2 separate regions of the Homo sapiens genome follow, and region 1 is linked to region 2. A link means that fine-mapping ties the variant in region 2 to the expression of a gene that starts in the linked region. Tissue or cell type: whole blood. Region 2 holds a variant in brackets; the other region holds the start of a gene. All regions are shown on one strand. Distances are between the middles of the regions.

Evidence for each region. PIP is the estimated chance that this variant, and not a neighbour inherited with it, causes the effect.
Region 1: CAP1 starts here. The variant in region 2 is fine-mapped to the expression of CAP1 in whole blood (TOPMed, PIP 0.98).

The regions. Positions count from the first base shown.
Region 1 is chr1:40,035,764-40,043,847 of GRCh38, forward strand. CAP1 (cyclase associated actin cytoskeleton regulatory protein 1) reads left to right here and starts at 4,966. Exons shown (of 13, transcript NM_006367.4): 1 at 4,966-5,038. It overlaps LOC105378669 (a long non-coding RNA gene), which reads right to left and starts at 4,683. Exons shown (of 3, transcript XR_001738013.3): 1 at 3,128-4,683; 2 at 2,334-2,388. RefSeq lists enhancers at 3,984-4,617, 4,586-4,655, 4,618-5,252, 4,906-5,105, 5,176-5,265.
Region 2 is chr1:40,007,284-40,015,387 of GRCh38, forward strand. It overlaps LOC105378669 (a long non-coding RNA gene), which reads right to left. Exons shown (of 3, transcript XR_001738013.3): 3 at 6,622-7,786. Among named protein-coding and RNA genes, the nearest start is that of CAP1, 29 kb to the right of the region's middle. The variant C/T (reference allele first, on the strand shown) is at 4,680.

The DNA.
Region 1 (8,084 bases), 28 kb after region 2:
GCCTGTAGTCCCAGGTACTCCTCCGGAGGCTGAGGTGGGAGGATCACTTGAATCCAGGAGTTAAAGGCTGCAGTGAGTTATGATTATACCACTGCACTCCAGCCTGGCTAAGAGCAAGATTCTGTCTTAAAAAAAAAAAAAAAAAAGAAGGCCGGGTACGGTGGCTCACACCTGTAATCCCAGCACTTTGGGAGGCTCAGGCGGGCAGATCACATGGTCAGGAGTTTGAGACCAGCCTGACCAATGTTGTGAAACCCCCCTTCACTAAAAATACAAAAATTAGCCTGGCATGGTGGTGTGTGCCTATAATCCCAGCTACTCTGGAGGCTGGGGCAGGAGAATCGCTTGAACCTGGGAGGTGGAGGTTGCAGTGAGCTGAGATCATGCCACTGCACTCCAGTCTGGGTGATAGAGCAGGACTCTGTCTCAAAAAAAAAAAAAGAAAAAAAAAGTTAGCAATACAAAGAAGCAGGAACTGTGGGAAAACTTTCTGGGGATGGGGACAGTAGTAGTAGTTCTGGTGGCACCATCCAGTATGTTGACACTTTAGACCTTATTTTGCTTTCTGATGGCCTTTGCCAGGGAAACAGACAAGAGATTCTCTATACTTAATAATAATTGTTACTACTCATTGAGTGTTTACTGTGAGCCAAGTGTTTTATTAGTTTTCTGTCCTAATTCCTATCAACCATTTAAGACGGCTATTAATATATCCTCTGAGGTTAAATGAGGATAACTCCAAGATCACACAGTTGGCAGAGTTGGGATTCAGTTTCAGAGTGACCCCAAAGCCAGATCTTAATCATATTTCTATATTGCGGCTATTTCTTTTGCCAACTCCTAATTTTTGGGCCTGATCCCCTATCTGAGGCTGAAATCTGGGGCCATACCCTTGGAGGGGAAGAAAGATAGGGTCACATAGACTGTTGTCTGTCATTAGCCCGTTTGGCAGGGGGATATAGGCTCTGCCCAAACGTAGACAGGCTCTGAGCCAGGTTGCACAGATGCAGGCAGTCCTCTGAGTCAGGCTGGGAAAGGCTCCAGATGAACCGCCAGACTTCTGTGTCTGAAACCCTGAGAGATAAAGAGGAAACTTGGGTGGCTCCCTCAGAGACAAAGTGATTCTGCAGGTTCAGAATGTGCTGAAATCCAGGCCATAAGAAAGTGGCAATAATACATGAAGAGGGGGAATGTGTGAGAATCAATCAACTCTCTGCTGGCAATTCTTGCTTGTAAATTGATTAATTGAATTCTTTCTTCTCCTTCTCTTCCCAGGCTGGATTTTGAGGACTGAGGCTCAAAACCCCCAAACCCAGATCCAATCCTTTTTACACCTTCCATTTCCCCACATGCCAAGTCTCAGAGCCAACTTGGCCCCTCTCACCCTTTTCATTTAGTCAATTTTTACTATAAATACTTATTATCAATTTTGTGCCAGACAAACAAGGACTTATTGGGAGGAAGCAACTTACAGGAGAGGAAGCTATTAAAAGATAAGTGCACAAATAATGAATGAGGATTGTAATACCTGCCAGGAAGGAAAAGCAGTATTGAATGAGAATGTGTCTTAATTCATTCCTGCTGCTATAACAAAATACCTAGACTGGGTAATTTATAAATAATACAAATTTCTTTCTTTTTCTTTCTTTTTTTTCTGAGACGGAGTCTTGCTGTGTCACCCAGGCTGGAGTGCAGTGGCGTGATCTCAGCTCACTGCAACCTCCACCTCCTGGGTTCAAGTGATTCTCCTGCCTCAGCAGATTCGAGTAGCTGGGTTTACGGCCACGTAGCTGGGACTACAGGTGCCCACCACCATGCCTGGCTAATTTTTGTATTTTTAGTCGAGATGAGGTTTCGCCATGTTGGCCAGGCTGGTCTCGAACTCCTGACCTCAGGTGATCCGCCCACCTCGGCCTCCCAAAATGCTGGGATTACAGGTGTGAACCACCGCGCCTGGCCGATTCAGATTCTTATTAGATCTTTGTGCTTATCTTCTAGCAGTTCTCCCTGCCTCTTTTGTTGCCCACTGAAGGCCATGCCCTACACTGTAGCTAGATTTTTATTTCTAAAATACAGTATGACTAGTGCCTCCTCGCTTTCACATTAAGGTTTGACCTCTCTTGCCTAGCATAGTTTGCTCAACCTCCTTTTCTTCAGCCTTATCTCCTACTTTTCTCCTGCAGGAACCTCTCACCTCAGTCCAGCACAGATTCCCATCTCCACTACTGTTCATTCATGTTTGCTCTGCAAGGATCTATCTGTCCATCTCTGCCTAGGAAATGACTATTCTGAATTCAAGGCACTCACTGAACATGTGCTAGATGAGAACTCACCATGGATGAAGCACTGGGTACTGGACAAGGGGCAAGATCAGCGAGGAGGAAAAAGCTGGAAGACAGAAGGCAGCGTATCTTCTGATGACCACTCCAAATGGAAATATCATTTCCAAAATAGACTGTAAGCTCCATGAGAGCAGTAACAGGGTCTGACTTGTCCACTGCTGGATCCCTAGTTGTGCTTGGTACAAAGTAGCATAGCAATTATTGAACTCTTCCAATAATTGCTACTATGTAGCTCAATAGTTTTTTTTCAGTGCATAAATACATGTGACAGATATTCTTTTATTTATTTTTTTGAGACAGAGTCTCACTCTGTCGCCAGGCTAGAGTAGAGAAGCACGATCTCAGCTTACTGCAACCTCTGCCTCCCGGGTTCAAGCGATTCTCCTGCCTCAGCCTCCCAAATAGCTGGGACTACAGGCGCATGCCACCACGCCCAGCTAATTTTTGTATTTTTTAGTAGAGACGGGGTTTCACCATATTGGCCAGGCTGGTCTTGATCTCTTGACCTCGTTATCTGCCCGCCTCGGCCTCCCAAAATGCTGGGATTACAGGTGTGAGCCACCGCGCCCAGCCCTTCATGTGACGGATATTCTTAAACTATCTTCCCATCTCCTACTGGAGTTACAAATGCATGGATCTAGACTTCTTAAAAGACTGGACATTCCTTAGGGCAGGGGTTGTAACTTAAGTCGTGTGTGCATTCTTTATAATGAAGCATTTTACAAAGTGGTTTCACATACATTACTGCTTCCGTTTCTCATTACAGCCCCATTAATATTCCCCACCTGATGAGGAAACTTTCTTCATTCTCCTTCCTGCTTCCTCTTCTCTCTCCTCTTCCTCTAGAATGCGTGTATGGTCTATGTTCCTTCTGTCTCTAATCCAGAAAGAGATTTAGAATAACTAAATGCAGAGTCAAAGATTATGTCCAAATAAAGTTAGAGTTTGTGTGTGTGTGAGACAGTGTTTTTAGTTAAATGTCAATATTTAAAATATACTATGACTTTTATACCATATTTTTTCATGTTGTCATGTTCTTTTAAACATGCTGGGAGCCATAAAGTTAGGAAGAGGCCCAGTAACCCGTCCAAAGTAACCTGACCAAAGTCTGACCCCTAGTAGAGGGCCTATGCCAGCACTGGAACCCAGTGTCTCCAGATCCAGAGGCATTCACCACCTCAAATCTGCCTCAAATGTCTGCAGTATGGTCTATCACAGGGGCTAATTAAGCTCATGGGATTTAGAGTCAGACAGATGTGTTTCCTTCAAAGTTTCAACAGTTACTTTCTGACCTTGGCAAGTTATTCAGCTTCCTCATTTGAAAACTAGAGGGCATAATGGTACCTACCACCGAGAGTTGCTATTAGGAGTAAATGAAAATACGCTTGAAGAACTCAGCATGGGCCTGGCAAGTAGTCAGCGTGCAGTAAATGGTAGCTGTTATTTTAAGAACTTTATTTGTTGAATGATTGACTCTGGCACATAACGCCTGCATTCAACTTGAAACACGGAGCTGTCACAGTCGTTCAGCTGAAGGGGCGGGAACTGTGGCACTTGCCAATTTTTTCTAGAAATAAATCTTTGTGGGAGGATAATGACCGGTTGGAGAGTGTGAGTCTTGAGGGAACAAAGATCGGATCTCCCGGCCCAAGGAGTACGGAAGCGAAGCCTCCCCTGCGCGCGGCAGCCACCGTGCGTAACCTCCCCTGAACCGAGTAGCAGCCGCCTGAGCCCACCCAGCCCTGGGCGAGGCTGCCTCAGAAGCCGGATTTCAGCAGAGTGGGTGCAGGATCTGCTTTAATTCTGCTCATCTTATTCTCGGGGACCACACCCTGCGCGCCGGGAGGAAGGGCTCCAAAACCACAGGGCGGAGGCTTCCGCGCGGCCCCAGACTTGACCATCTATGGTCACAGAACACACCGACCAAACAGGAAGTGGGGTGAGAGCGGAGGGTTCCCTACCTTCCCAGCCCCGCGACTGCCAGCCGGGCTGGGGCTGACCCACCGCGCCCTCACTGACCCCCACGCCCTGCGCCCAGTCTCCGCAAGTCCTCCCACAACAATGTCCAGACTAATTGCCTTCCCACGTCACAAACGGGGAAACCGAGGTATGCACGCCCAGAGACAGGCGGAGCGTGGCCTCGATCACCACCGAGAGCTGACGGCCGCCCGGATTCCCGCCCTCAGAGAATCCTGGCCCCCAGTCGTTCCAAGACCCTTTACGGACTGCAGCTTAAAGGAACCGGCCTCTGCCATTGAGACCAAACTGACAGAGGAACTGGTCACTCTTCTGTTCTTTCCAGAGAGGAGCTTAGCCAGGGACTTCTGCCCTTCCTGGGCCCGGGCCTCGGGGGCGATTCCGGGTAGGTAAAGCGGAACGAGGGCGTGGCCTCTCTTGTGAGCCCGCCCTCCCCGTGTCGCTCCCGCCTTGAGGGCGGGGCTCTTTCCCAAGTGCCCTCTGTGAGAGCCGGGCCGCTCTCTCCGGGGCGTGGCGAAGAGGGGCGGAGTCACGAGCGGGGCGGTGAGACTTCCTGCCCAGTCGCGGGCCAGCCTAGCGCTTCAGCCGGCGGCTCATTTCCGGTGGGGGCGCCGCGCCCAGTGAGGGCCCGGAAGTGGGTCGCGCGGAGATTGCTGGGCGGTTCTTGCCGGAAGCGGAGAGCGGCTGATCGCAGTCCGGAGGTGAGGCGGAACTCTGAGGTGAGGGTGTGCAGCTTGGTAGGGATTGGGGTCCCTTCCGGGGCCCATCGGCCCCTGGTGGTGTTAATGGCCCTTCTGGCCTACGCGCGTGTCATGAACCCTGCCGAGAGGGCCGGGGCTGAGGCCCTCAGGCCGACCCGGACTCTTGGGCGCGGTCTCTTGAGGTGGGGCCGGGGTGAGCAGCTGAGTCCGGGTGCCCCGGGGAGGCCCCTCTGCCCGATTTCGCAGCGCTGCCCATCAGCTTCAGCGGAGGCCTGATTCCTGAGGTGCTCTGACTGGAAGGAACCTCCGAGATCGGAGAGTCTTCCCTGTCTCCTGTTGATGCTCCCATTGCACTGATAGGTAAATTGATCCCTAGAGAAGAGGCTAGTCTGAGATATATAGCGAGTGAGGAAAAGAATCGGAATCATGATCCTGGTGCCTTAGATAACCAGCCCCAGTTCTTCCCGTGTTGCTCGGAACCTCTCTAACTTGGGATGGTCTTCCGGTCGGTGTTGCCCCGCAGGCTGCTGCAGGTTAAAGGCCAGCGCTGCGTGGAACTTTTTTTTTTCTCTCCTCCCAAATTGAGCCGTTTGAAATGCCTAGGGAGTTTTTAAAAGAAAGGCGGGCACATCCTTGTATTTACAGGCAGATATCCTCCCTTTCCTCCTCGGCTGCTGCTCTTACTTTGACAAGCCAGGCTAACATTGAAGGTATGTACTTCTGGACCTGAAATCAGACGGCTCAGGTTTGGTCTGGCCTCAGTGCTGAGTGTCTGTGGCCATAGGTGCCTTAAACTTCTTTCAGCCTCCTTTTGTTCATCTTTTAAGTGGAGATCTCTGCTGACCCCACAAGATTAAATTCAGCGTAACAAATTGTGTTTATTCTGTGCCAGCATTTTCCCAGATGCGGGGAATGCAGCTTTAAAACAAAACAATGTAGACCCTGCCCGCGTGGAGCTAGCAGTGTTTGCAGGGATGTTTAAGAAGTAATTATAAATGTTGATGAGTGTTAGGAAAGAACAGGGTGCTCTGAAAGTATGTAACAGGGGGTTCAGGAAAAGCCCTTCTGAAGAAGCAGAGTTTTTAAGATGAATTTTGAAGGATAAATAGGAATGCGTTCGAAGAGTGGAATGAGAACATTTGAGACAGGTTAGCATCAGAACTGTGTCAGTTGAAGCTCTTTGTGGGGCTCTCTCTTCAAGAGAAAATCCGGGGGCATATCAGCACATTTATCATTTACCAGACTTTTATTTAATTTATTTATTTGTATTTTTAGTAGAGATGGGGTTTCGCCGTGAAGGCCAGGCTGCTCTCGAACTCCTAACCTCAGGTGATCCCCCCACCTCGGCCTCCCAAAGTGCTGGGATTACGGGCATGATCCACCGTGCCCGGCCCCACCAGACGTTTATTAAGACCTTAATATGTATGAGGCACATTTTAATGAGATAGCCTTTGTGGCAAAGAATACAGTTCTTCTGGAGTTTACAGTGGGAGAGGAAATAGACAAGTAAATGAGGGATGGCTTACAGTGTCATAGTGCATAGCACAGGGCTACAAGAGCACAGTGGAGAAATACCTGAGCCAGGTGCCCAGGGTTCCAGGAGGAAATGGGAGGCTAACTCTTGAAATATTTATTTAGCTACATAGGGAATCCGGAAAAGGGATTTCCAGGCAGAGACTACTACAGGTGCAAGGACCTGGAGAACCGGACAGCTGAAAGACCATGACGAGTTCAGTGTGACTGGAATTCTAGTAATGGCTGGGGAAGTGGAGGAAGTGAGATGTGGTCAGGTCAGTCATATGTGGAGGACATTGTAAGTCATGCTAAGGAATTTGGATTTTTACCCTGAAAGCTATGGAGATGCTTTGAAGGGTTTTATGCAGGAAAATGATGTCGTCAGATTTATATTTCAGAAAGTTCATTCTGTCAAGTAGGAGGGGACCAGCCCTGTGGGGAAGTAAAACAGTGTTTGGAAGCTCTTGCTGTAGACATGGCCTGAACTAAGACAGTGGAAATGGGAATGGAGAGGAGGCATCAGATGTGAGCAATATTAAGAAGATAGAATCCATAGAATTGGAGGCTGATTATGGGAATGAAGAGGTAAGAATAGCGCGATTGCCTGGCTTTCTGGCTTAGGGAACTGAATGGGTAGTACCATTCAGATAGAGAGTATGAGAGGTAAATTAGGGAAGTGACATGGGAAAAAATGCATTTTGAATGTTTTTAGTTTGAGGTGTTTGTAGCACATCCAGGCAAAGATGTCTAATAAGGTGGGTCAGCTAAAGGAAAGAGCAAGAGTAAAGATACGGAGGCAGGAGAGGGCCTAAATTGTTCAGTGATACTGGGGCCTGGAGTTTTGCAGAAGACCAGACTGCAAAAAAGGTTAGATGTCGGCCAAGTTGTGAAGGGCTTTTTGTTTGTTTGTTTGTTTTGAGACGGAGTCTTGCTCTGTTGCCCAGGCTGGTGTGCAGTGGCACAATCTCGGGTCACTGAAACCTCCACCTCCCAGGTTCAAGGAATTCTCCTGCCTCAGCCTCCTGAGAAACTGGGATTACAGGCGTGCGCCACCACGCCCGGCTAATTTTTGTATTTTTAGTAGAGACGGGATTTTACCATGCTGGCCAGGCTGGTTTCGAACTCCTGACCTCGTGATCCGCCTGCCTCGCCCTCCCAAAGTGTTGTGATTACAGGTGTGAGCCTCCGCACCCGGCGTGAAGGGCTTTTAATGCCTTGTTGAATTTGTTTGGATTTGATTTTGTGGGTGGCAGTTTGCTAATTGATTTGCCCAGGTCCAGCATAAAGAAATTTCTGGGCTGGGCACAGTGACTCACGCCTGTAATCCTGACACTTTGGGAGGCTGAGGTGGGCAAATCACTTGAGATCAGGAGTTCAAGACCATCCTAGCCAACATGGTGAAACACCATCACTACTAAAAATACAAAAATTAGCTGGGCGTGGTTGTGCATGCCTGTAGTCCCAGCTACTTGGGAGGCTGAGGCAGGAGACTCGCTTGAACCCGGGAGGCGGAGGTTGCAGTGAGCTGAGATTGCACTGCTGCACTCCA
Region 2 (8,104 bases):
TCATCCAACAAGGGATTAATATCCAGAATATACGAGGAACTCAAACAACTCAACCATAAAAAATAAATAATCCCATTAAAAAGTGGGCTAAGGATATAAATAGATATTTCAAAAGAAGACATACAAATGACCAACAGGTATTTGAAATAAATGCTCAGCATCACTAAACATCAAGGAAATGCAAATCAAAACCACAATGAGATATCATTGTACCCAAAAAGGAACGATTGTCATCATGATTATGATTATTATTGTTATTCTAAGAGACAGGCTCTTGCTCCATTGCCCAGGCTAGAGTGCAATGGAATGACCATAGCTCACTGTAGCCTTTAACTCCTGAGTTCAAGCAATCCTCCCACCTCAGCCGCCCCAGTAGCTAGGACTACAGGCATGCACTACCACACCTGGCCAATATTTTAAAAATTTTTCTAGAGATGGGATCTTGCTATGTTGCCCAGCTGCTCTCCAACTTTTGGCCTCAAGTGATCCTCCTGCCTCAGCCTCCCAGAGCACTGGGATTACAGGCTTGAGCCACCTCACCCGGCTGAGACTCCATCTCTACAAAAACATTAAAAATTAGCCAGGTGTGCATATATACACCATGGAATACTATGCAGCCATAAAAAGGATGAGTTCATGTCCTTTGTAGGGATATGGATGAAGCTGGAAACCATCATTCTCAGCAAACTATCACAAGGACAAAAATCCAAACACCTCATGTTCTCACTCATAGGTGGGAATTGAACAATGAGAACACCTGGACACAGGAAGGGGAACATCACACACTGGGGCCTGTCGTGGGGTGGGGTGAGGGGGGAGGGATAGCATTAGGAGATATACCTAATGTAAATGACGAGTTAATGGGTGCAGCACACCAACATGGCACATGTATACATATGTAACAAACCTGCACATTGTGCACATGTACCCTAGAACTTAAAGTATAATAATAATAAAAAAAATTAGCCAGGTGTGGTGGCTCATGCCTGTAGTCCTAGCTACTTGGGAGGCTAAGGTGGGAGAATCACTTGAGCCAGGGAGGTCAAGGCTGCTGTGAGCTATGATTGTGCCACTGCACTTCAGCCTGGGTGACAGAGCGAGACCCTATCTCAAAAAATAAAATAAAATAAAAAGTAATAGCCATTCTCAGGCATGGTGGCTCACATCTGCAATCCCATGCTTTGAGCTATGATTGTGCCACTGCACTTCAGCCTGGGTGACAGAGCGAGACCCTATCTCAAAAAATAAAATAAAATAAAAAGTAATAGCCATTCTCAGGCATGGTGGCTCACATCTGCAATCCCATGCTTTGGGGGTCCGAAGCAGGAGGATTGCTTGAGGCCAAAAGTTGGAGAGCAGCTGGGCAACATAGCAAGATCCCATCTCTAGAAAAAAATTTTAAAATATTGGCCAGGTGTGGTGGTGCATGCCTGTAGTCCTAACTACTGCGGCGGCTGAGGTGGGAGGATTGCTTGAACTACAGTGAGCTATGGTCATGCCATTGTATTCTAGCCTGGGCAATGGAGCAAGAGCCTGTCTCTTAGAATAACAATAATAATCATAATCATGATGACAATCATTCCTTTTTGGATACAATGATATCTCATTGTGGTTTTGATTTGCATTTCCTTGATGTTTAGTGATGCTGAGCATTTATTTCATATACCTGTTGGTCATTTGTATGTCTTCTTTTGAAATAACTATTTATATCCTTAGCCCACTTTTTAATGGGATTATTTATTTTTTATGGTTGAGTTGTTTGAGTTCCTCGTATATTCTGGATATTAATCCCTTGTTGGATGAATAGTTTGCAAATATGGTATATAAGCTTTTGTATGAACATTTGTTTTCAATTTTCTTGAGTATACACCTGGGAGTAAAATGACTGGGTCACGGCCGGGGCAGTGGCTCATGTCTGTAATCCCACCCTTTGGGGGGCCGAGGTGGGCGGATCACTTGAGCTCAAGCATTCGAGACCAGCCTGGCCAACATGGCAAAACCCCATCTCTACTAAAAATACTAAAATTAGCTGGGCATGGTGGTGCTTGCCTGAAATCCTGGCTACGTGGGGGGCTGAGGCATGAAAATTGCTTGAACCTCTGGGTGGCAGAGGTTGCAGTGAGCCAAGACTGCACCACTGCACTCCAGCCTGGGTGACAGAGGGAAACTCTGTCTCAAAAAAATAAGAATAATAAAATAATAATAAAGAATGACTGGATCATATGGGCCTTATGGAAATTCTATGTTTAACTTTTTGAGGAAGTACCAAACTATTTTCCACAGTGGCTGCACCATTTTACATCCCTACCATCAACGTATGGGGGTTTCAATTTCTCCACAATCTCTCCAACACTTGTTATTGTCTGTTTTTTTTTTTTTAAATTGTAGCCATCCTAGTGGGTGTGGGGTGACATTTCATTGTGGTTTTAATTTGCATTTCCCTAATGACTTTAACGCTCGTGTGTTTATGTATGTGTGTGTGGTGCTGGTGGTGTAATAATTACCTTGCTTCAATAACAGGATATTAATGGATTATATGTTAAAGAAAACATAAAATACAGCAAAAGTCAGTTCTTTCCTGTCCCATATCTTTTATTCATCTGTCTATCCTTCCCTCAACAAATGCCCAATCAATTAATTTCCACTTCTTTATGTAACCAATATTTTTAAAATTTTTGTAGAGATGGGATCTTACTATGTTGCCCAGCTTCTCTTCAACTTTTGGCCTCAAGCGATCCTCCTGCCTCAACCTCCCAAAGCACTGGGATTACAGATGTGAGCCACCATGCCTGAGAATGGCTATTATTTTTTTTTTAATTACAAAAAAAAAGGTTTTTTTTGAAACAGAGTCTCCCTCTGTCTCCCAGGCTGGAGTGCAAAGGTGCAATCTCGGCTCACTGCAGTCTCCACCTCCTGGGCAATTGTCTTGCCTCAGCCTCCTGAGTAGCTGGGATTACAGGCGTGTGCCACCACACCTGGCTAATTTTTTGTATTTTTTAGTAGAGATGGGGTTTCACCATGTTGGTCATGCTGGTCTTGAACTCCTGACCTCATGATCCACCTGACCTCGTGATCCGCCTGCCTCGGCCTCCCAACATGCTGGGATTACAGGCGTGAGCCACCGTGCCCGGCTTTTTTATTTTATTTTATTTTTTGAGATAGGGTCTCGCTCTGTCACCCAGGCTGAAGTGCAGTGGCACAATCATGGCTCACAGCAGCCTTGACCTCCCTAGCTCAAGTGATTCTCCCACCTTAGCCTCCCAAATAGCTGAGACTACAGGTATGAGTCACCACACCTGGCTAATTTTTAATGTTTTTGTAGAGATGGAGTCTTGGCTGGGTGTGGTGGTTCACTCCTGTAATCCCAGCACTTTGGGAGGCCGAAGTGGGCAGATCACCTGAGGTCAGGTGTTCAAGACCAGCCTGGCCAACATGGTGAAACCCCATCTCTACTGAAAATACAAAAAATTAGCCGAGTGTTGTGGCACGTACCTGTAATCCCAGCTACTTGGGAGGCCAAGGCAGGAGAATTGCTTGAACCTGAGAGACGGAAGTTGCAGTAAATTGAGATCACACCATTGCACACCAGGCTGGATGACAGAGTGAGACTCTGTCTCAAAACAACAACAAGAAAAGAGATGGAGTGGCACTGTGTCACCCAGGCTGGTCTCAAAATCCTGGGCTCAGGTGATTCTCTCACCTCAGCCTCCAAATATGCTGGGATTATAGACATTATCCACCTCGTCTGACCCATAATGACTACTATAAAAAGATAAAAGCAACAGATGCTGGCCAAAATAAAGAGAAAAGGGATCTCTTATACACCGTTGGTGGGAATGTAAATTAGTACCACAGTTAATGAAAACAGTATGGAAATTTCTCAAAAAGCTAAAAATATAACTACCATATAATCCAGCAATCACACTACTGGGTATTTATCCAAAGGAAAAGAAATCAGTATATCAAAGGGATACCTGCACTTGCATACTTATTGCAGGACTACTCACAATAGCCAAGATACAGAATCAACCTAGGTGTCCATCAATGGACTAACGGATAAAAAAAATGGCATATATACAAAATGGAATACTATACGGCCATAAAAAAGAATAAAATTGTGTCATTTGCAGGAACATGGGTGGAACTGGAGGTTATTATGTTAAATGAAAGAGACCAGGCATGGAAAGATAGATGCCACATGCTCTCGCTCATATGTGGGAGCTAAAAAATTGGTCTCATAGAGATAGAGAATAGAATGATAGATACTAGAGGCTGGGAGGAGTATGTGGGTGGGAAGGGGGAATAAAGAGATATTGATTAGTGGGTACAAACACACAGTTAGATAGAACAAATAAGTCCCAATATTTAATAGCAGAGTAGGGTGACTGTAGTTAGCAACACTGTATAGTGTATCTCAAAGTAGTTAGAAGAGAGGACTTGAAATGTTATCAACACATAGAAATGATAAATGATAAAAGTCAAAGTGATACATGCCTCCAATACCTTGCCTTGATCATTACATGTTCTTTTTTTTTTTTTTTTTTTTTTTTTGAGATGGAGTCTTGCTCTGTCGCCCAGGCTGGAATGCAGTGTCACGATCTTGGTTCATTGCAACCTCCACCTCCCGGTTGCAAGCGATTCTCCTGCCTCAGCCTCCCCAGTAGCTGGGACTACAGGCG[C/T]GTGCCACCACGCCCGGCTAATCAAAACATGTTCTATTTATGTAACAAATACATGTACCCCATAAATACATAAAATATTTTGTATCAATAAAAAGCAAACGATCTTTTTTTTTTTAAATTTTATTTGAGATGGAGTCTGGCTCTGTCGCCCAGGCTGGAGTGCAGTGGCGAGATCTCGGCTCACTGCAAGCTCCGCCTCCCAAGTTCACGCCATTCTCCAGCCTCAGCCTCTCGAGTAGCTGGGACTACAGGCGCCCGCCACCACGCCCGACTCATTTTTTGCATTTTTAGTAGAGACGAGGTTTCACTGTGTTAGTCAGGATGGTCTCGATCTCCTGGCCTCGTCATCCACCCGCCTTGGCCTCCCAAAGTGCTGGGATTACAGGCCTGAGCCACCGCGCCTGGCCTACGATCATTTAAAAAAAAAAAAAAAAAGTCTTGTTAAGAATGTTCAGGTCCCGTGTAGTGGCTCACGCCTGTAATCCCAGCACTTTGACAGGCCGAGGAGGGCGGATCACCTGAGGTCAGGAGTTCAAGACAAGCCCGGCCAACATGGTGAAACCCCGTCTCTACTAAAAATTCAAAAATTAGCCAGGTATGGTGGTATGTGCCTGTAATCCCAGCTACTTGGGAGACTGAGGCAGGAGAATTGCTGGAACCTGGGAGAGGGAGGTTGCAGTGAGCCAAGATTGTGCCACTGCACTGCAGCCTGGGCAACAGCGAGATTCCATCTCAAAAAAAAAAAAAAAAAAAAAGAATGTTCATAGCAGGTTGGGTGCAGTGGCTCACCCCTGTAATTCTAGCACTTTAGGAGGCAGAGGTATGCAGATAACATAGGCCCAGGAGTTCAAACCAGCCTGGCCAACATGGCGAAACCCTGTCTCTACTAAAACTACAAAAATTAGCCAGGCGTGCTGGTGCAAGCCTTTAATCTCAGTTACTCAGGAGGCTGAGGCATGAGAATCACATGAGCCTGGGAGGTGGAGGTTACAGTGAGCCAAGATTGCACCACTGCACTCCAGCCTGGGCAGCAAAGCAAGACTCTGTCTCAAAGAAAATTAAAAATTACGTTAAAAAAAGTTCATAGCAGCATTATTCATAAAACAACCCAAATGTCTATCAACTGATAAATGGATAAACAAAATGTGGTATATTCACAAATAAAATATTATACAGCCAAAAAGAGAGTACTGATATATGCTGCACCATGGACGAACCTTGAAGACATTATGCTTAGTGAAAGAAGCCAAACATGAAAGGCCACCTTTTAATGATTCCACTTGTATGAAATGTACAGAGTAGGCTAACTCATAGAGACAGAAAGTAGATCAGTGCTTGTGGGGTGAGAGGAACAGGGAATGACTGCTAATGGGTATGGAGCTTCTTTTTGGGGTAATGAAAAATTTCTGGAATTTGATAGTGGTGATATTTGCACAACCTTGTAAATATACTAAAAACCACTGAATTGTACGCTGAAAAGGGTGAATTTTATAGTATGTGAGTTATATTTCAATTAAAAAACCCAGAAATGATAGCAAACTGATTTCTATATTTATAGACCTTGGGCAACAAGCGTTTTGGTAACACCACCCAGCTTTGCATTTTCCACCAAAATGTTAAGCAAAAGAATTACTCAGAGGACAAGGAGAAAAAGCTGGCTATAAATTTTGAAACATAATTTTTAAAAATCTATATTGCATACAATGCTGATTATAAATATGCAATGTAAAGCTCTGCAAAATGCAAACAGTATCTAAATGTAAAATGTAGAAAGTTGCAGTTTCCTATAACCCTATTGTAGGGATTAATGTAATGCTAGCAGTTTAACAGATCAATCCTAACATCTCAAATGCCTAATAAGATAAGATTTTATCTTTTACCAGTGAAATCTAAAACAGAATTTTGCCCCTATCAACATGAAAGAATCAAAAGGATCAGCACCCATTTTTAAAGAGTTTATTCAGGCTGGGCACAGTGGCTCACACCAGTAATTCCAGCACTTTGGCAGACCAAGAAGGAGAATTGCTTAAAGCCAGGAGTTCAAGACTAGACTGGGCATCAAAGTGAGACTCTGTTTCTATTAAAAAAATTTTTTTAAGGCGTTTATTCCGTGAAAATGGGGTCAGTGAAATGGGGTCCGTGCTCTGATGTCAAAAGTTAAGGTCTTGTTTATAAAGGAAGAAAACAAAGAAATTTAACAGGATTATTTCTTATACAAAGCTGGTTTATGAATTAAAACAATTCAATTAGTTAATTTGTTTTCTTTTCCTTGTGGCTTGGTTTCATTTATTTTCTAATTTAAAAGAGTATATAATGTAACAGTCATGAAGGCTTTGTGTGAGAGAGGTAGGAAGGAAGTTAATCTGCAATGAAGATCAGCAGTGAAGTGGGACTAAAGGGAAGTACCCTTTAGTCATTTACAACATTTTACAAAATTATGTAGATAAGGAAGGAGGCTAATCTATAATCAGAGAAAAAATGTTTACAGTTTCCTAGGTTACAGCTGCCTGTCACATGACTCAAGTCTCATAAACACATTTCTTTAAAGCTCAAAATAATTTAATGTTCCAACAGCTTAGATTTTTTTCTTTTTTTTTTTTTTTTTGAGGCAGAGTCTTGCTCTCTTGCCCAGGCTAGCATGCAGTGGTGCAGTCTTGGCTCACTGCAACTTCCGCCTCCTGGGCTTAAGTGTTTCTCGTGCCCTAGCCTCCCAAGTAGCTGGGGCCACAGGCGTATGCCACCATGCCCGGCTAATTTTTTGTATTTTTAGTAGCGACGGGGTTTCACCCTGTTGGCCAGGCTGGTCTCGAACTCCTGACCTCAAATGATCCACCTGCCTTGGTTTCCCAAAGTGCTGGGGTTACAGGCGTGAGCCACTGCACCTGGCCCAATAGCTTAGATTTTGAATTACTTATTTTCACACCACTGATCAGTAAATTGCTCTTCTCCAAGCAATGATTCAGAGACCCAAGGTCATTCTATCTTCTGTCTTCATCTTGAACACACGACATTCAGAGTTGCCACAGAAGGAGAAAGAGCATGGAGAACTGTCCACGATTCCATTGGCCAGATCTCAGGCACACGGCCATAGTTATCTGCAAGAGAGACTGAGAAATGTAAGCTGATGAGTGGCCAGGCGGAAGAGGAAACAGATTTGTTGAACTTTTGGCCAGTCTCTGCCACACATTTCTCACCAACAACTCTGTCAATAGTTTATAGCAAAGTCCTCCACCTTTTTTTGGTATGCATATACTAATATATAATAACATTTTTAGGGAATCATGCTATGTATATTGGATACTATGGACTGGGTAGGCTGATTCAGATATGACCTGCGCTTATTTAGTCATCATCCATATACATTCAGAATTTAGAGTATACTGATTCAAACCTTGGTAACCTCAAGCGGGCATTACACATTGTTA